Regions from separate parts of the Homo sapiens genome. Here all the other regions are linked to region 2. Evidence: fine-mapped expression QTL. A gene starts in region 2. Each other region holds a variant in brackets. All regions are shown on one strand. Distances are between the middles of the regions.

Evidence for each region.
Region 1: its variant is fine-mapped to the expression of KNTC1 in cerebellum (GTEx, PIP 0.99).
Region 3: its variant is fine-mapped to the expression of KNTC1 in whole blood (TOPMed, PIP above 0.99).
Region 4: its variant is fine-mapped to the expression of KNTC1 in whole blood (TOPMed, PIP above 0.99).

The regions. Positions count from the first base shown.
Region 1 is chr12:122,365,449-122,370,448 of GRCh38, forward strand. The region is part of intron 3 of CLIP1 (CAP-Gly domain containing linker protein 1); the gene reads right to left. It also overlaps the pseudogene RPL21P1. Among named protein-coding and RNA genes, the nearest start is that of CLIP1-AS1, 28 kb to the right of the region's middle. The variant ACT/A (reference allele first, on the strand shown) is at 3,018.
Region 2 is chr12:122,524,990-122,530,229 of GRCh38, forward strand. KNTC1 (kinetochore associated 1) reads left to right here and starts at 2,260. Exons shown (of 64, transcript NM_014708.6): 1 at 2,260-2,362; 2 at 5,002-5,203. The coding sequence starts at 5,075. RSRC2 (arginine and serine rich coiled-coil 2) reads right to left here and starts at 1,947. Exons shown (of 10, transcript NM_023012.6): 1 at 1,859-1,947. The coding sequence starts at 1,864. RefSeq lists enhancers at 1,627-2,086, 4,194-4,293.
Region 3 is chr12:122,230,908-122,236,171 of GRCh38, forward strand. It overlaps VPS33A (VPS33A core subunit of CORVET and HOPS complexes), which reads right to left. Exons shown (of 13, transcript NM_022916.6): 11 at 4,879-5,016; 12 at 1,893-2,061; 13 at 1-1,520. The coding sequence ends at 1,339. Among named protein-coding and RNA genes, the nearest start is that of DIABLO, 7.5 kb to the left of the region's middle. The variant T/C (reference allele first, on the strand shown) is at 2,867.
Region 4 is chr12:122,600,977-122,605,976 of GRCh38, forward strand. KNTC1 (kinetochore associated 1) reads left to right here. Exons shown (of 64, transcript NM_014708.6): 45 at 560-649; 46 at 1,593-1,764; 47 at 1,853-1,911; 48 at 2,051-2,267; 49 at 3,588-3,661; 50 at 3,901-4,111; 51 at 4,330-4,439. Among named protein-coding and RNA genes, the nearest start is that of KNTC1, 76 kb to the left of the region's middle. The variant T/C (reference allele first, on the strand shown) is at 2,670.

The DNA.
Region 1 (5,000 bases), 160 kb before region 2:
GAGCCAAGATAGCTTCCTGAAACGCGTGAAGGAAAATGATCAGAAAAAGAAAGAAGCCAAAGAGCAAGGGACCTGGGTTCAACTCAAGCGCCAGCCTGCTCCACCCAGAGAAGCACACTTTGTGAGAACCAATGGGAAGGAGCCTGAGCTGCTGGAACCTATTCCCTATGAATTCATGGCATAATAGATGTTAAAAAATAAAATAAAATAAAGGACCTCTGGGCTATTTAAAAAAAAAAAAAAAGAAAGAACTGCTCCTGCTTCAAAACAAACTTGTGGCTGGGCACAGTGGTTCATGCCTGTAATCTCAGCACTTTGGGAGGCCCAGGCAGGAGAACTGCTCGAGCCCAGGAGTTCGAGACCAGGCTGGACAACATAAGGAAGACCCTGTCTGTACAAATAATAAAAAAAATTAGCCGGGCATAGTGGTGTGCGCCTGTGGTCCCACTCCTCAGGAAGCTGAGGTGGGAGGATTGCTTGAGCCCAAGGGTTTGAGGCTGCAGTGAGCCACAGTTGTACCACTGCACTCCAGCCTGGGTGACAGAGTGAGACTCCACCTCAAAAAAATAAAAAAGTAAATAGGCCAGGCACGATGGCTCACGCCTCCCAGCACTTTGGGAGGCCAAGGTGGGTGGATCACCTGAGGTTGGGAGTTTGAGAGCAGCCTGGCCAACATGGTAAAAACCTGTCTCTACTAAAAATACAAAAATCAGCTGGGTGTGGTGGCTCACGCCTGTAGTCCCAGCTACTTGGGAGGCTGAGGCACAAGAATAACTTGCACCCGGGAAGCGGAGGTTGCAATGATCCAAGATCACACCACTGCACTCCAGCCTAGGCGACAGGGAGAGACTCTGTCTCAAAAAAAAAAAAAAGTACTTCAAAAAATAATTGGCCCAGTGTGGAAGTTCACACCTATAATCCCAGCACTTTGGGAGGCTGAGGTGGGAGGATCGCTGGAGTCCCCAAGGCTGCAGTGAGCCATGATCACACCACTGCACTACAGCCTGGGCAATAGAACAAGAAACTGTTTCAAAAAATAATAATTGACTCTTGCTATTTTCCACAGTGAGGCTCTCTGTTTCTTCACAACTATTAAAATTATCCTTCCTAGGCTGGGTGCGGTGGCTCAGGTCTGTAATTCCAACACTTTGGGAGGCCAAGGCAGGCGGATCACTTGAGGCCAGGAGTTCGAGACCAGCTTGGCCAACATGGTGAAACTCCATCTCTACTAAAGATACAAAAATTAGCTGGATGCAGTGGCACATGCCTATAATCCCAGCTACTCAAGTGGCTGAGGCACAAGAGTTGCTTGAACCAAGGAGGCAGAGGTTGCAGTGAGCCAAGACTGTGCCAATGTACTCCAGCCTGGGTGACAGAGTGAGACCTTGTCTCAAAAAAAAGAGTACTAGTTCTAGACTTGACACATTTGACCTTTTAGTACTCGTTAGTACTAACACACAAATCATCACCTATATAAAATTGGTCTCACTGCAGTTGAGTCAAAAGAAAATAAAGTCGGCCTCAATTTTCTCCTTCCTCCCACACCACACCATTCAGAGCAGCAGTCCAGCCAGCATCATGTGAGCAGGACACAGCACATTAGTTAAAGATGATGCAACCTCTTCAGACAATGTGTTAAATTCTTTGGGGATGAGTCGAAGTCACTGTCATGACAATTGCTTTTCCAAGAGGCATCTAATAGGCTATAGTCAACAATTCTCCAAGCAAACTACAAGCTTCATTCAGATCAGCTTTGTAAAAAGTAATCACAAATAACAAATTAGCAACTATTTCTCTAAATGCAGGTAATATACATGTATCCTGAAAAAAAAATTATGTCACAAAATTTGTCTGAAATGAATGATTACTAGTTCCTAGAACAAAAAGTTTTCTTATATTCTTTCTCCCACCAAACATGGAACTCTTCACTCATTTAACAGAAAATGTATTTTTCTTTTCCCTGTAAAAAATCAGTAGTTATTCTATGGAGACAGAAAGTCAGGTGAAGTCCTAAAATCATCAAATGTTTTTCTACTTAATCATTCTACAATCAAAAAACGTGTTTACGCATTTCAACGGGACTTTACAAAGTTAGGTTTTATTTCTCATGTGTTCCAGACAATGCAGAAAAGTCTAGTACATGCACGTACAGGAAACAGAAGCATTAAATAATGCATTGACAATAAACAGAAGGCACTATTATCAAATCATATCTAAGAAATCTATGTTCTAAGACAAATATCTAAGTTATTAAAGAAAAACATTTTCAATATTGAAACAAAAAACAAGGCCAGGTGCAGTGGCTCATGCCTGTAATCCCACCATTTTGGGAGGCCAAGGCAGGAGGATCATCTGAGGCCAGGAGTTTGAGACTGGCCTGGGCAACACAGTGAGACTCCATCTCTACAAAAATTTAAAAATTAGCCAGGCATGGTGGCATGTGCCTGTGATCCCAGCTACTGAGGCTGCAAGTGAGCTATGATCATGACACTGCACTCCAGCCTGGACAAGACAGTGAGACCCTGTCTCAAAAACAAACAAAAAAACTAAAAGATAGATTCCCATGGCAAACACAAACAAGCCCAATTCGTTCTCTTTACTCTCAGAATGTTAGCATGTAACTCCTAATACTGTGGTAAAAGTCACTACTGAAGACAGAATTAATTTAAACTAGAAACGCAAAAAAAACCCTAGATACTATTTTTATGCTTTAGCAAACCTCAGATTTTTAAGTTCTCATTTATTTATTCAATATATATTTCTTGAGTGTTTGGATCCTTAAAAAACAAGGATAAACAGAATACAGCGTTGGCCATTGAGGGAGACAGACAAGAAGATTCAGACAAGAAATTCCTGTAAAAAGTGTTAAGTACATCAAGAGATTTCTACAAAATGCTGTGGGAACAGAAACAAATACCCTTCCTGTACGCTCCTGTAAAAAATAAAAACACTGATAAATTCCTGTTGGGTTAATGAGTGGGTGTCTACAAACAGGAAACAGAAACAATCCTCTCTGG[ACT/A]CTCTCATCTCTTCATTATCCAGTTCTCGGCAAGCCATTTAATCTCACAGTGCCTGAGTGCATAAAGCTATAAAATGTCTCAAGAGCAGTAATGAGGGGTTGTTTCACAGGAATTTTGTGAGCAGTCTTGTAAGGTGGCTTCTTATCTGCCATATTCCAAGATAAACAGCTTATTTTAAAAAGTAAACATGGAGGCCAGGTGGGGTGACTCATGTCTGCAATCCTAGCTCTTTGGGAGGCCGAGGCAGGCAGATCACTTGAGGTCAGGAGTTTGAGACAGGCCTGAAATTCTGTCTCTACTAAAAATACAAAAATTAGTCGGGCATGGTGGCAAGCACCTGTAATCCCAGCTACTCGGGAGGTTGAGGCGGGAAAATCACTTCAACCCCAGAGGTGGAGGTTGCAGTGACCCAAGATCACACCACTGCACTTCAATAAAAAAAAAATAAAATAAAATAAACATGGTTAGCTGGTATTTGCCAAATACAAATGTAAGCCTCACTTAAAACTTAATTGCCTGTGACATGAAAGAGCCAAAGCACGGTACTTTTTTTTTTTTCCTTCTTTTTGAGACGGAGTTTCGCTCTGTCGTCCAGGCTGGAGTGCAGTGGCATGATCTCAGCTCACTACAACCTCTGCCTCCCGGGTTCCAGAGATTTTCCTGCCTCAGCCTCCCAAGCAGCTGGGATTACAGGCATGTGCCACCACGCCCGGCTAATATTTTTGTATTTTTAGTAGAGACAGGGTTTCACCATGTTGGCCAGGCTAGTCTCCAACTCCTGACCTCAACTGATTCCACCCACCTTGACCTCCCAAAATGCTAGGATTACAGACGTGAGCCACCACGTCTGGCCACTTTTGATTACCTCAAGTAATATAATTACCTCCAGTGAAGGGCCAGTTCACCTTCCAGCAACTCTCCTACAGAGAAGGGTAAAATCTTCACTGGTCCTAAGTCGACCTCTGCTTGCCCTACTTTACTCTCTCCTTCATGGGTATAAAGTGACGACTGTATTCAAAACCCTCTGATTCTCTCCACACTATTTAATGAGCTCCTACTATGTGCCAGGCCCTGTCCTAAGTGTTGTGGGTGTGACAGTGAATGAGACAGAAAGTTTCCGTGCTTTCATGGAGGTTAAATTCTGGGCAGGGAGAAATGGACAATAAGCAAGTAAAAAAATGAAAGATAATTTTCAACTGGTGAAGAGGGCTATGAAAAAAATAAAACAGGGTAGTGTGACACTGCCATAGAAGGTGTCTTTAGTTGGGGTGGCCAAGGAAGGGATGCCTGAGGAGGTAACACTTGAGCATGACTTAAGTGACCACGAGGCACCGGGCACAAAACATCCCAAGCAGAAGAAACAACAAATTCTAAAGTGGGAATGAGTCTGGGTGTTTAGAAACAGCAAAGGGGGCCAGGCATGGTGGCTCACACCTGTAATTCCAGCACTTTGGGAGGCCAAGGCAGACAGATCATTTGAGGACAGGAATTCGAGACCAGCCTGGGCAACATGGCGAAACCCTGTCTCTACTAAAAATACAAAAATTAGCCAGCTGTGGTGGCTCACGCCTGTAGTCCCAGCTACTCAGGAGGCTGGGGCGCGACAATTGCTTGAGCCCTGTAGGCAGAGGGTGCAATGAGCCGAAATGGCGCTGCTGCACTTCAGCCTGGGCAACAGAGCAAAACCTATCTCAAAAAAAAAAAAAAAGAAGAAGAAGAAAGAAAAGAAACAGCAAAGGGGCCAGTGTAGCTGAAGCAGAGTGAGAAAGGGGTGTGAGAAGGACAAGAGGTCGGGAGGGTGGGCAGGGTCCAGAGAACAAGGGGCACTGCAAGTCCAAGGAAGGAGTTTCGATTTTTATTTTAATGCCATGAGGAGCCCCTTTAGATCACGATGTGTTGGTCTTCGTTGGTGCCATATCTACAACACCTGGAACAACTTCCGGTGCATAGCAGACGCTCAGGATATTTTCTGAATGAATT
Region 2 (5,240 bases):
CTGGATTGAATACTAGGTCACTTCTCTAGGGGACTGTCTTTTTATTGAACAAGGCACGGCATAAATAAATGTTTAAATTCACTTTTTAAAATACTAGAACCCGGCCGGGCGCGGTGGCTCACTCCTGTAATCCCAGCACTTTGGGAGGCCGAGGCGGGTGGATCATCTGAGGTCAGGAGTTCGAGACCAGCCTGGCCGACGTGGTGAAACCCCGTCTCTACCAAAAATATAAAAAAATTAGCCGGGTGTGGTGGTGGGCGCCTGTAATCCCAGCTACTCGGGAGTCTGAGGCAGGAGAATCGCTTGAACCCGGGAGGCGGAGGTTGCAGTGAGCCAAGATCGCGCCATCGCACTCCAGCCTGGGCGACAAGAGCAAAACTCCGTCTCGAAAAAATACAAAAAAACCTGCAACCCAAGAAAAATAGTATTACTCTTTAAGTATACTGAGGCCCAAAACACTAAACAAAGGAAGACAGTAAAAGAAACGGGTTTAAACTCAATCACCTAAATAATAGAGGGGTATGGGGGAAAAAGAAAATCATCTGCCTAATCCCAGGCATTCCAATCGTTAGGAAGAGCAAACTTTAAAACTATCACTATGTTTAAGAGTCATAATTATTATCGAAAATGATGTAATTTTTTAGTCAGTAAAAAGGAATGCAAAATCTTTACATTTTCCTTTTAACGGAATAAAAATGAGGTAAGCACAAAATAATGTGGATCCGTCAGAATTGGGTATCTTATACACACGCAGGCTTATTGTTCAGAATAGATAATTTACGAACTGTAGCTCCTCTGGGGTCAACGAAGAGTTTTTTTTTTTTTTTTTTTTTTTTTTTTTTTTTTTTTTGAGACGGAGTCTCGCTCTGTCACCCAGGCTGGAGTGCAGTGGCGGGATCTCGGTTCACTGCAAGCTCCGCCTCCCGGGTTCACGCCATTCTCCTGCCTCAGCCTCCCAAGTAGCTGGGACTACAGGCGTCCGCCACTACGCCCGGCTAATTTTTTTGTATTTTTAGTAGAGACAGGGTTTCACCGTTTTAGCCGGGATGGTCTCGATCTCCTGACCTCGTGATCCGCCCGCCTCGGCCTCCCAAAGTGCTGGGATTACAGGCGTGAGCCACCGCGCCCGGCCAACGAAGGGTTTAAATTTAAAGGAACAAGGTCAGTGACAAGACTTAACTGTAACGCTTCTCGGACTTCAAATTGATTACATCACGGGCCACTTCGGAAACCGCGCATCAGTCAGAATTGGTAGTTCCACAACCTTTTAAGTTGAATTTTCACTCCCTTTCAGCAATACCTTCCTAGCTCGTTAATACACAATAATAAGGTTTACACGGACGAACACTAATTGAAATTATGCAACTAGAAGCATCTCATTGAGCGTACAAAAAAAAAAATAGCTACAAGTCGCTCTCTTCTCCCACACTACCCTTTACAGACACTGCCTTTTTGACCCAATACTTTTCAGAGACCACTCCTGATCGTCTTTCTCTTCCCCAGCCCCTTTCTCCACCGCAAATTCTCAGGCCCTAAAAAAAACTTAGAATAAATCACTAGCCAGGGTGAATAAGCGAAAATGGAGGAAGTTCAGTGAGGCGAAAGGAACGTAGGGTTGGGGAAGAGAGGAGGAAAGTTCTGGAAAAAAAAAGGCACTCCCTGCGGCTCCCCACCCCCACCAACACCGCCTTACTTCCCCCTCCCTACAGCAGGCAGCCATGATGGCGGGCGCAGAAGAAGGCCGCGGCGCCATTTTGTCTACACACATACACACGAACAAGGTTCTGGGAGCCGTTCACCCACTGTTGGAACGTAGCAGAAAAATATCCCTGGCTTTAAACTCAGATTCGGTACCTACCGCCATAGTTCAGAGTCCCGGCCGCTAGAGCGGCGCCTCCACTTGTCGCTTTCAACAGTACCGGCCGCTCCGAAGCTTCGCCTCAGACTAAATCGCTCGCGCGAGAGACCCGGATGGCACAAAGGCGAGGAGGCCCGGCGCGTCGCACAGCTTGCTGGGAGAAAAAGGGGCGGTAACAAAAGTTTCTATAACAACGCAATTCGAGGCGGTGATTGGGTGTTCTTTCATAGGGGAGTGTAAAGACCGTGAAGAGGGCGGGGCCAAGAATACACCCCCGGAATGCGCAGTCGGGAGAACGGAATGGGCGGAACTCAGGGTGGGGCAACTTCCTATTTCGAGTCTAAAGTAATCTTGGTCTCTTCCGGCCGCCGTAAAGGGGTTGGGTTTAGTGTTCTCCCGCCAATTTAAGCCTGTGGCATGGAACCTAAAGACTAGAGGCGGTTGTGTGAGTCAGGAAGAGGGGCCAGATATCTGAGTGTTCCTCTTTAGTTTCTTCAATTGCAGGTGAGGACGGGGAGCTGCGCTGTGTAGGGAACTGGGGGTGGGTTCAGGACGAAGTAGCTGCAGCCTCTGCTCAGTTCCTGTTGTTTTCCCCTTGACGCTGGCAGGAGAGAGGTTGGAGTCGGTTTTTGCTGGCGGCGATGTCCAGCGGAGAGCGTTTAAGTATGGAGGCCTAACTGACAAGTGTTTCATCTTGCTCATTCTCTCGTATTCGCGAATCTGTTCTGCATTCCGCCGCCAGAGTGATCTCAAAATTATAAAATCAGACCACTCGTTTGCTGAGTTCCCCTTCTACCCCTTGTACTGAGAATAAAATTCAATCTTGAGGTCGAGGTTTTATTGGACTCCACTGCTCTCTCCCTCACTGTCTTCTGCTTTTGCTTTGACCCGGCAGCAGCATCAAACGCTTCCTACCCAGCCTCCGAGTCTTTGCACTCTGTTCCCTCTGCCTACGTCGCGTTCCGCCTAAGTTTTGCGTACTTCTTGTTATTCAGGTCTCAGCTCAGATGTCACCTCCTTCCCTTCCCAAACAAATCCTTCTTCAGCGACGCCTCACCTTATCCATTTAATCACTGTTTCCTTCAAATCATTTAGCACTTTTTGTAATTATTTGTGCAGTTGCTTTTTTGTGGAGGTAGCATAACAAGATACGTATTAACAATTTTATTTTTGTCCGTTTTTCCCGCAAAAACATAAACTTCATAATGGCAAAGACATTTTGTGTTCTGTTCAAGCTATATTCCCAGTTCCTAGAAAGGTGTCTGGCACATAGTAAATAGGTATTCAATAAACATTTGTTGAATAAGTAAATATGGCAGTTACGGGCGGTTTCTCTATTTCACAGATGTGGGAAATTGAGACCCATAAAGGTATTCATTCCAACCTGTCCCTCCTTCTTCATCTCCTCACTCCCACCCAAACACCAGCCACTGAAACTTCTCTATTCTCCAAACATGTTTTGTTTCTGTTCCCTTGCTTATGCTCTTAGGAAGAACTCTTTAAACATTTATAAAACTATGATCTTCAATTCTCAGCCCAATAACAAATTAGCTAACACCTAAAATTGAATGTTTGCCATCAACCAAGCATTGTTCTGTGAACATTTAAAACTCAAAACATTTGGAGGCTGAAGCAGAAGGATTGCTTGAGCCCAGGAGATCAAGGCCAGCCAGGGCAAAATAGTGAGACCCTCGTCTCTCAAAAAACCAGAAGTGAAAAATAGAAAACTCCTTCAGGTGGGTACAACTAAATTAGTCCCTTGGTATTGGTATCCATGGGAGATTGGTTCCAGGACCTCCCACAGATACCAAAACCCTAGGATGCTTAAGTCCCTGTCATTAAATGGCATAGTATTTGCATGTAGCCTAGGAACATCTGCCTGTATACTTTAAATCATCTCTTGATTTCTTATCTTGCGTAACAGTGTAAATGTGCTATGCCTGTAGGTGCAATCTAGGGATGTGGAACACATGGATATTGACGGCAAACTGTATATATATATTTTTTTTCCAAGACGGAGTTTCACTCTTGTTGCCCAAGCTGGAGTGCAAGTGGCACGATCTCGACTTACTGCAACCTCCGCCTCCCGGGTTCAAGCAATTCTACAGCCTCAGCCTCCTGAGTAGCTGGGATTACAGGCGCACACCACCACGCCCGGCTAATTTTTTGTGTTTTTAGTAGAGAGGGGGTTTCGTCATGTTGGCCAGGCTGGTCTCAAACTCCTGACCTCAGATAATCCACCTGCCTAAGCCTCCCAAAGTTCTGGGATTACAGGTGTGAGCCACCGCGCCGGCCTGGTCTGTATATTCCTATTTTATAAATTAGAGAATTGAGGAACAGAAAGATTAAGTGATCACCCAAGGACAGCTGCCTAGTCATTGTGAAAGAGCACCAAGTCAGAAATTGTTTCTACCTTGTGCTATACCTTTTATAGATATTGAAACATACTTCTAGTAGCACTTATGAAACCAATTGTAATTATTTGATTATCATTCCCTACCAGTCTTGATCCAAGGATTGTTTTTATCCTTAGTGTTCTTTTCCCACCCAGACTCCAGGTAATATGGTTTATGTAAACCTTTGCTTTTTGAGATGGGTAAACCTCATAAGGTTTCAAGCTTAGTCTTTGATCCAGAAACCTAATTCATTTTTTTCTCCTCCCCTTATCATTTTTATTTGTTGTATAATAATACTATGATAGCATCAATGGACTTTTTCTGAACTTCATCTGGAATCTTATCATCCTATGATATCCCTGACAATCTGGCATCTAAACCTACACTGTTTGCTGCTATTAAAGGTTTATTTCTAATGAAAGGTTTATTTCTAATGAAAACTTGGTATAATTAAAGGTTTATTTCTAATGAAAACTTGGTATAATTCCAAACTAGACACACAAAGTAATGGAAGCTCTAAGATACATTGGTAAGATCAGAATTGTTGGTTTGTGTGCATAAACCAATATGTTGTTCTCTGGTAACCATCATAGCTCTAGTTCCATTTATGTTATTGGCCCGAAGTGTTTAGTGGCCACAGCAATAACAAGAAGACTAAGATGTCTGTATATGTTAATGTTAGACTTTTGTTTTTGTTTTGTGAGTAAGCTTTATCATTTCCCAAGGAACCAGGTTCTATGCAACAAGATAATATGGTGTCTAATTTTATGTTGTTCAGGAAAGACAGTGGTTCCTGACTCAGGAAGACAGTCTCAGAAACATGTGGAATGATATTGAGCTGCTAACAAATGATGATACCGGAAGTGGGTACCTGAGTGTCGGTTCAAGAAAAGAACATGGAACTGCTTTATATCAAGTAGATTTGCTAGTGAAGATCTCTTCTGAAAAGGTAGTGATTATTACACTGACTGTTTCATTCACAGAAT
Region 3 (5,264 bases), 290 kb before region 2:
CTCCAAGATCATCAAGAGATACACCTGGAGAAGGCTGAGGTCACCAGAGAGGGGGCTGAAACAGTGTTTTCAGCTGAGTACGGAGTGGCCACAGACTGCTAGAAAAGTACACGTGGCAGTTACCATGGAAACGAAGTGGCCAGATGCTGAAGAAGCAAGAGTTGCCCCTGCTCACTGTGGGACCAGTTGGATGTTGGGCCCTTGATGGACAGAAGAGAAAACGGAAACCTCAATGGAGGCACCCACCACTGCTGTGTCTGGAGTTAACGTGTGTGCTAAGAAACTGTCTTTGAATTACTTCAAAGGCTGAATTCTCAGAAGGTTGCTCCCCAATTATCACATTCTTCCATGTCAAAAGCCCCTGATAAGTATGGAACCTAAGGAGATGTAGCTGATCACATAGAGCATAAACTTTGTTTCTGGGCAAGAAGCTCCCCTAAACCTCTTGCTTTGTAAGAAGTAGAAGGAAGCAAACTTGCCTTAGTGATCAGTTGCGACAGTGACTGATGACCCTAAATATAATCTCCCACACTCTGCAGGAAAAAGAAATCTCAACTCAGTGATAAAATGATCTCCAGCTCCCAACACTTAACCACTGTCCTAGGCCTGATGCGCCTTGAAGAAATACAGCACTGGGGATTAGAGGATGAACTTTCTCTTTTTATTTTCAGTTTCACCTCCTCAGTCTCAGCTTTCTTATTTTAAGAGCTGGCCCCGTTTGTCTGGCTGAATGGATTATCTACCCCCACCATCCTTAATGTATTTCCAGAGGTCTCTAATGAAGACCCTGAGCTTAGAAAACTCAAAACCAGTGCTGCTTTTACTCAGGTTGATTTTCTTCTATTCTTCTTTCTTCAGCAGATTAGGGGCCAGGCACGGTGGCTCAGGCCTGTAATCCCAGCACTGTGGGAGGCCGAGGCAGGTGGATCACCTGAGGTCAGGAGTTTGAGACCAGCCTGGCCAACATGGTGAAACACCATGGCTACTAAAAATACAAAAATTAGCCGGGTGTGGTGGTGCATGCCTGTAGTCCCAGCTACTCAGGAGGCTGAGGCAGGAGAATTGCTTGAACCTAGGAGGTGGAGGTTGCAGTGAGGTGAGACCGTGCCACTGCACTCTAGTCTGGGTGACAGAGCAAGACTCCGTCTCAAAGGAAAAAAAAAAAGGGAATACAAAAGAGACGGAGAAAGCAGTAAACAGTAGTATAATTTAAGAAGCTGACCCCAGAATATATTCTGTATTCCCATGTTTCTTCTATGGGGTTTTACTTCCTTTCAGCAATTTCTTCAAAGAGGTAGTTTATTCTGCAGTACACTTGTTAAGTCTCCTCTGAACATCCTAGAAAGGTTTTTCCATCAGAGCCTCTATCCAACTGGTTCCATTCATTAGTTTAGTGGTGGCAATGACATATTCTGTACCTCCATCTTCCAACTGGGAGAGAAATCGCAGGGCAGCAATTTCAGCGAAGGTTACGCCCCCAAGGAAAAATATCAGAGTCACTCGGTTTTCTCCCGGTTGACCTAAAATTTAAACATTTCAGAATTAAAAACTATTTATTATTAATGCTTCTCTTCCCACCTCTTCAAACATTTTATCATTCATAAGAATAAACAAGTGCCTTCATCCAGACAGTTCATCTGAAACCTAAGAATACTGATTTTGATCTCAACATTTTTTTTTAACTTCTGAGATTCTCAACACAGAAGTTGAAAGCTGCTATCCCTCAGGGAATAATCCGATTCGAGTTCTTACTACATACATTAGCAACGAACAAAAGAGGTGTATTTAATTCTGACTCCTAAGTGCTTTACTATTTTACAAAGCAACTGTACAATACCTGAAAACCACACTAACAGTACATAATTATCTGTAGATGCTGGACTGGGACTTACGTTTCTTCTGCAGTCCTGTGGGCAGTGGCTGCCGCTCCTCAAAGTGGGGCCCTGGGAGGATGCGGAGGACCTCCTCGATGCTCCGCCAGCCAGGCCGGGAAAGCAGCTGGGCCAGCCGCACACTGAGCGGGGCATACCCACTGTACACATACGATATGTCCGTGGGGTTCTGTGAGATAATTAAAGAACAAAAACCCTATAGATACAGAGACTTAGAGCTACCTGACTGTGGCCTTTTGGGTAATCCAAAATTATTTGATTTGGATTTAAAGATATACAACCCCCACCCCTGCCATGCCTTGTTCTAATCCACCCTAGCTGGGCTCAATTTTTAGCAGCCAGAGCTTCAATTTTGACTGAAATCTTGAAAAGCCACTCAAAGCAGCTCTAGGTACAGAAGATGAAGAATTATTTGGTTTGGCATGAAACTTTTTTTTTTTTTTTGAGACAGAGTCTGGCTCTGTCACCCAGGCTGGAGTGCAGTGGCATAATTTCAGCTCACTGCAACCTCCGCCTCCCTAGTTCAAGCAATTCTCCTGCCTCAGGCTCCCAAAGAGCTGGGATTACAGGTGTGCACCACCACTCCTGGCTCATTGTTGTATTTTTAGTAGAGACAGGGTTTCACCATGTTGGCCAGGCTGGTCTTGAATTTCTGACCTCAGGTGATCCACCTGCCTCGGCCTCCCAAAGTGTTGGGATTACAGGCCTGAGCCACCGCGTCCAGCCAGCATGAAACATATTGGGGGGAACTTGGCACTCCCTAGCTGAGCAATGATGTGCAATAACCTTTGAACTTAGCAATTCTACTTTTAGGCATTAATCCTACAGAGGTGCTTGCAGAACAAAAGATAATAGACCAAAGTATAAACGTATTAACTGCAACACTGCATGTAACAGTAAAGACTGGAAACAACCTGAATTTCTATCAATAGCAATCTGTTAAATCATTAAATAAGGTATAGCCTCAAAACCAC[T/C]ATGTAGCAATTTAGAAAAATTAAAAAGAAGGGGAAGATCACAGAAGACCCTTCAAGATCCTTTGTTAAGTGGTGGGTGGGTCCAGAGTCAGAAAGGTCAGAACAGTGAAGACAGCTGAACTAATATGTACATGATAGACTCTAGACATTAAGGGTCTCTATTTTCCCACCGGGAAAAAATCATTTAATTTTGCTCCTGACAGAGGAGACTGTCTAGTTATGAGCTTTTGTTGCAAGAGGCGGCCTAATAAAGTTCCTTATGAAAAACCAAAAAAGACTGAAATTTAGAAACATTAGAATAAGTAATAAATGTAAAGCAAAGTGCACCCCACTTTGGAGACCAACAGTAGAGAATATGCACTCTTTATGTAAAAATGTATATGCACAGAATCTTTCTGGAAGGATAGATAAAAAACTGGCCACAGTGGCTGCCTCTGAGGGGAAACTGTGGAAGGAAACTCACTTGGCCCTGATGGCCCTGCTTTTGCATAGCTTTTTTTTTCCCTTTTTCTTTTTCTTTTTGAGATAGGGTCTCATTCTGTCGCCCATGCTGGAGTGCAGCAGTGCAATCTCAGCTCACTGTAGCCTCAACCTCCCAGGCTCAGCCTCCTGGGAGGCTCCCACCTCAGCCTTCTGAGTACAGTAGCTGGGCCTACAGATGCATGCTCCACCATGCCCTGATCACTTTTGTATTTTTTAGTAGAGACAGGGTTTCACCATGTTGGCCAGGCTGGTCTTGAACTCCTGACCTCAAGTGATCCTCCTGCCTTGGCCTCCCAAAGTGCTGGAATTACAGGTGTGAGCCACCGCGCCTGGCCATGGCTGGCTTGTTTATGAGTGCTGGACATCTCCACTGACTCCTCTAGACACTCTCCACCCTTCTCCGCAATGCTCTGTGCCCGGAGATGGACCTGTGCGTCCCACACCAACACACTCCAATGCCTTCTCTTTGGGTCTGACCAAGACAAAGCACCAGAGTGAACTGGAGAGTGGGCAGCAGTGTGAGGATGACGTTGTCACTGGCCAGCTTCCTCTGCTGGAGGTTGACCATACCCTCAGCCAGAGGCCCCTCACCCCTTACCTCACCAGATGGCCTCACCACAGCTCTTCTCTCCAGGTTCTAAGACAAGTTTCTAGAACACCCCCCTCTCCTTGTCCTTCAGGCCGTGGCTGGCAAGGGCTCCCCACTGCACTGCCTCTCCACTCTTCCCACATCTTTATTTATTTGAGACAGAGTCTTACTGTGTAGCCCAGCCTGGAGTGCAGTGGCACAAACATGGTTCACTGCAACCGCCTCCTGGGCTCAGTGATCCTCTAACCACAGCCCCTCGGACTAAAGGCTCATACTACCACTGGCCATTTTTTTTGTAGAGACAAGGTTTTGCCATGTTGCCCAGGCTGGTCTCGAACTCCTGGACTCAAGCGATCTGACCCTTCAGCCTCCCAATATACTGGGATTACAAGAATGAGCCACCGAGCCTGCCCCATAACTTTTTTTTTTTTTTTTTTGAGACAGAGTCTTGCTCTGTCGCCCAGGCTGGAGTGCAATGGCATGATCTGAGCTCACTACAACCTCCGCCTCCCAGGTTCAAGCAATTCTCCTGCCTCAGCCCCCCAAGTAGATGGGATTACAGGCACGCACCACAATGCTGGGCTAATTTTTGTATTTTTAGTAGAGATGGGGTTTCCCATGTTAGTCAGGCTGTTCTCAAACTCCTGAGCTCAAGTGATCTGCCCGCCTCGGCCTCCCAAAGTGCTGGGATTATAGGTGTGAGCCACCGCGCCCAGCCCACATCTTTATTAAACTCTCCAGAAACTCCCCAGTTTAAGAGCATTCTCTGTGTCCTTCTAGGATTCTGATGGATACAATACATGCATACATTACTTTTTCAAAAACATTAGAAAATTGTTTTCAGAAAGCAAGGCAGATGTGTAGGTTCAGAAGCATGTGTTGTCACCTGGACGATCTAACCAGTCCCTAAGCTGAGACGAGGTGGAGAAGTGTGGCTTACTTGCTCATTAACATCATCCATCCAGAGGCGTAATGTTTTCCGTATAGTTGGGTAATTGTTTCTGCCCCCCGTCTGCGGTTTCAGCAGGCCGGCCTTCTCCAGGTTGTGTAAGGTCAATATGTGCTCATAGCCGTATGTCTGCAAGGGAAGTCATTTGGCCTTGATGTCAGATCAGGAAAAGGATTTCTGCAATTTTCAAAGAAGGGCACTTCCAACAAATCAATTTGGTTTGTACTGCAGGACATGTTACCAAAGTCCAGCAATGTTAGTGGATGGGCACAGAGGACAGGGTGGAGGGATGAAACTTGTCCTAAAACTGCTTGCCTGTTACTATTAATTCAGCTCACTGTTTCAAAGAGAAATTTAAAATTTTTACTTTAAAGTCA
Region 4 (5,000 bases), 76 kb after region 2:
CCTTGTGCAGCTTTTAAAAACAGCCTTTGATACCTTTTTTTAGCATGTATGTTTATCCTCACAGGTAATTTTAGAGGTGAGAAAATTGTAGCTCTTTATTTTTTTATTTTTATTATTTATTTTTGAGATGGAGTCTCGCTCTGTCACCCAGGCTGGAGTGCAGTGGCGCAATCTCAGCTCACTGCAAGCTCCGCCTCCCGGGTTCACACCATTCTCCTGCCTCAGCCTCCCGAGTAGCTGGGACTACAGGCGCCCACCACCACGCCCAGCTAATTTTTTTTTGTATTTTTAGTAGAGACGGGGTTTCACCGTGTTTGCCAGGATGGTCTCGATCTCCTGACCTCGTGATCCACCCGCCTCGGCCTCCCAAAGTGCTAGGATTACAGGCGTGAGCCACCGTGCCCGGCCGATTGTAGCTCATTTTTAAGGGAGTAATTAATTTAACAATGTAGTGCAGTGACATTTTTATATTTGTAATCTGTGCTGATTATTGTAATTGAATAAAATTTCAACATGGCAAAGTCTTATCAAGTTTTGATATATTTTTGTTTTTATACAGTTGGATCCTTATGACTATGAAATGATTGAAGTTGTCTTGAAAGTTATAGAACGAGCTGATGAAAAGATAACCAATATTAATATTAATCAGGTATAACAAATATATCAAAGATGTAAAAATCATCTTTCTGCTTTTATTTGGATCATAAATCATATCATTATCCAGGGCCTTTCCAAATTATCCATTGAATTCCCTTTAAACTCTGTGGTTTATTTTAGGTTTTTAAAAATCTTTACAAATCTTTAAAAAAAGAAAAAGATTTTCATGACATTCCTATTTTATCACTTATCTTCATCCTTTTTTTGCTGTTTTGAGGTGATTTAAATAACCTCTCCTGCTGTCGAAGAGTATGAAGTCACTACAGAACTAATTGTGAAGAATTAAGGAAACATTTGCCATGTAGGAAGTGAAAAAGGCCATGGGACTGAGAGTTAGGTCAGCTCTGTGTATTAATGGGTAGGTCCAAGACCTACTCAATTATGTCTCAGTACTTTCATTAACTTCTTCATCGTTTCTGAATTTTGGTCATAGTGGCTTTTATACTTTTTAATTTGATTTTAGAAATTAATATTTTAGAAATATTTTAATATTATGTTAATAAGACTTATTATATAAGAAAATATATCAATTCAAAAGATTATACAAAGTGTCCTAATATAAAATATAAACATAGGAAAGATAAGAGCGTAGAGAATTTAGATCTGTAGCCTCTATATTTAAAATGAAATCAAGTATTTTGAATTATATCTCAAATTATTTGAAGAGCAGATAACTGTCAAGCTCTTATTTACAAAACATCTACCAACAACAGGGCACCAGTGGTTTCTCCTCATAGGATTCCTTTAATCATTGTATATAAATTATAGTTTAGATGAATAATGTTAAAGAGAATACTAGAAAAGGTTTTGATCCTCTTTCTGAAAACAAGATGGTCTCAGGAATGGAAACTTTTGATGGTATACTATTAGATGATTTTATGACAGTTTAGGATTGGGTTACTCTTACTGGACAAAAGTTTTTTATTTTAATATAGGCATTGAGTATTCTGAAACATTTGAAGTCATACAGAAGAATTTCTCCTCCCGTGGATCTAGAATATCAGTATATGTTGGAACATGTCATAACTTTGCCATCAGCTGCCCAAACTAGACTGCCTTTTCACCTGATATTCTTTGGCACAGCACAGAACTTCTGGAAAATTCTCTGTATGTGTTCATTAACTTTTTATGAATTTTACTGGATAGCCAAATTTTTTTTCTTAAGCAAATCGTACTTTCCTTGTTTCCTTTCTAGCTACAGAACTCAGTGAAGAATCTTTCCCAACATTGCTCTTAATTTCGAAATTAATGAAGGTAATGGATTAAAACATTGTAAGACATTTCTGTATCCTGCAATTAATTCTGACCCCGTATAGAAGATTTTTCTGCTGCTTTCATGTAAAACCTTATATGTGAATATGTGCTTCAGCCATAACCTTCCTTTTCTTTGAAGTTCTCTCTGGACACTCTGTACGTGTCTACAGCAAAACACGTTTTCGAAAAAAAACTGAAGCCAAAGCTCCTGAAGTTAACACAAGCTAAATCCTCAACACTGATTAACAAGGAAATAACTAAGATCACGCAGACCATCGAATCCTGCTTACTCTCTATAGTCAACCCAGAGTGGGCTGTAGCTATTGCCATCAGCCTTGCCCAGGATATCCCTGAAGGTATGAGCTCTTCTTTTAAAATTGTAGTTAAAAAAAAAAAAAAAGTACTCTTTTTGCATCTTTAAGGAGAAGCAGGATGGTAGTTTTCAAATGTATTTGCTTGCTCTCTTAACTGTGGTGAATGCTGAAACGCTCAAGGGCAGTGGGCATGGGCAGGGAGGCAGGCAATTTCCAACTTGTCCTTGTGCCGCCTTTGGGGTGTGACCTTTGCTAGGAATAGGCAGTGATGGGTACTTTTAATATCCAATCACACTTTCTTTTTTTTTTTGAGATGGAGTCTTGCTCTGTCGCCAGGCTGGAGTGTAGTGGCATGATCTTGGCTCACCGCAACCTCCACCTCCCGGGTTCAAGTGATTCTCCTGCCTCAGTCCCCCGAGTAGCTGGGACTACAGGTGCGCGCCA[T/C]CATGCCCGGCTAATTTTTGTATTTTTAGTAGAGATGGGGTTTCACCATGTTGGCCAGGATGATCTCGATCTCTTGACCTTGTGATCCGCCCGCCTCGGCCTCCCAAAGTGCTGGGATTACAGGCGTGAGCCACTGCACCTGGCCCAATCGCACTTTCAATGAGGAATCTTTAGATAGTCTCACATAACCAAACAGGTGCACAAGCATAGGCACTCACTGCTACATTTTTGGTTGTAACAAAAGTTGAAAGTGACTTTTTAAAAAATGCTCAGGTCAGGAACTGGTTAGAAAATAGGGTGTATTCATAGAACGAAATATTATGGGGCTGATTTGGAGAGATATCCAAGATATGAAGTGAGAACAGCAAATTATACTAGAATATGTATGGTATTACCCATTAGGGTTAAGATGCACATGCATGCATGTGTGAACACAGACTGACACACACACACAGAAAACTCCTAAAGGCATATAAGAATTTAGAGAATAGGAATGGAATCTGATGAGAGGGCCCCGGTGGGCTTTTTTTTTTTTTTTTTTTTTTTTAACAGAGTCTTGCTCTGTCGCCCAGTTTGGAGTGCAGTGGCGTGATCTTGGCTCACTGCAACCTCTGCCTCAGCCTCTCGAGTAGCTGGGACTACAGGCATGTGCCACCATGCCCAGCTAATTTTTGTATTTTCAGTAGAGACAGGGTTCTTCCGTGTTGGCCAGGGTGGTCTCAAACTCCTGACCTCAGGTGATCCACTTGCCTTGGCCTCCCAAAGTGCTGGGATTACAAATATGAGCCACTGTGCCCAGCCATGAGTATGCATTTTTGTAATTTTTAAAAAGTTGCTAATTTGACCAAAATACATTTTCTTGAAAAGATTAAGATTTGCCTGTAAATCTTTATTTATTTATTTATTTATTTATTTTAGGTTCCTTCAAGATATCTGCTTTGAAATTCTGCCTTTATTTAGCTGAGAGATGGCTACAGAATATCCCATCGCAGGTGTGTCTGAACTATCAGATTGGCGGCTTCTCTTCTTCCTAATTAAATTGTACTAGCTTAATTTACCTTCTCATGCTGCCCTGGTGCCTAAAATGGAGAAGGAAGACCAAGGCTTTATGTAGATGCTTAGGAACATAACTGAGGAAGGGGGGAGGGATTGTGATTGATAAAGATGGATGCTTGGCTTCAACTGAGGCTTACAAAGTAAGATTTTCTTTTTGCTTGGAATTGTTTAAAAGGACGAAAAACGTGAAAAAGCCGAGGCTTTGTTGAAGAAGCTTCATATCCAGTACCGGCGATCGGGCACAGAAGCTGTGCTCATAGCCCACAAGCTGAACACTGAGGAATATTTAAGAGTGATCGGAAAGCCAGCACATCTTATTGTCAGTCTCTACGAACATCCTAGCATCAATCAAAGAATTCAGAATTCATCTGGCACAGATTATCCTGGTGAGGACAAAACAATTTTTTTGTTGTCCAAGAAAAGCTATTATTTTGATTCTCAGTTTTATGTATATATGTACGTGTACATATATATTACTTACATATGCTTATATATGTATATACTTATATGTGTATGTATGTGCATATATACACATACACATATAAGTATTCAATATAAATATTTAAAACTTGAGTTTTTCTTTTCTTTATTTTGAATATCTTAGATATTCATGCAGCAGCTAAAGAAATAGCCGAAGTCAATGAAATTAATTTGGAAAAAGTCTGGGACATGTTGTTGGAAAAATGGCTATGCCCTTCAACAAAACCTGGTGAAGTAAGTACTTGCTGCCCAAGAGTATCTGTAGTTGAGTATGCACTGATGGCTTCTTCTCAAAGGCTAAATATTTATCCCACATGATACAGCCTTCTAATTAGGAGCGCAGACTCTTCAAAGAAGGAAGTTTCTTTGTTTGTTTTGTTTTTGAGATGGAGTCTTGCTTGTTGCCCAGGCTGGAGTGTAATGGCGCGGTCTCGGCTCACTGCAACCTCTGCCTCCTGGGTGCAAGTGATTCTCCTGCCTCAGCCTCCCGAGTAGCTGGGATTACAGGCGCCTGCTACCACACCCGGCTGATTTTTGTATTTTTGGTAGAGACGGGGTTTCACCATGTTGGTCAGACTAGCCTCGAACTCCTGACCTTGTGATCCTCCTGCCTCAGCCTCTCAAAGTGCTGGGATTACAGGCGTGAGCCACTGCACCTGGCCTCTTTTGTTTGTTTTTTAAAGACAGAGTTTCGCTCTGTCACCCTGGCAAGTGCAATGGCACAATCATGGCTTACTGCAGACTCGAATTCCTAGGCTCAAGCAGTCCTCCCCACCTCAGCCTCCCGAGTAGCTG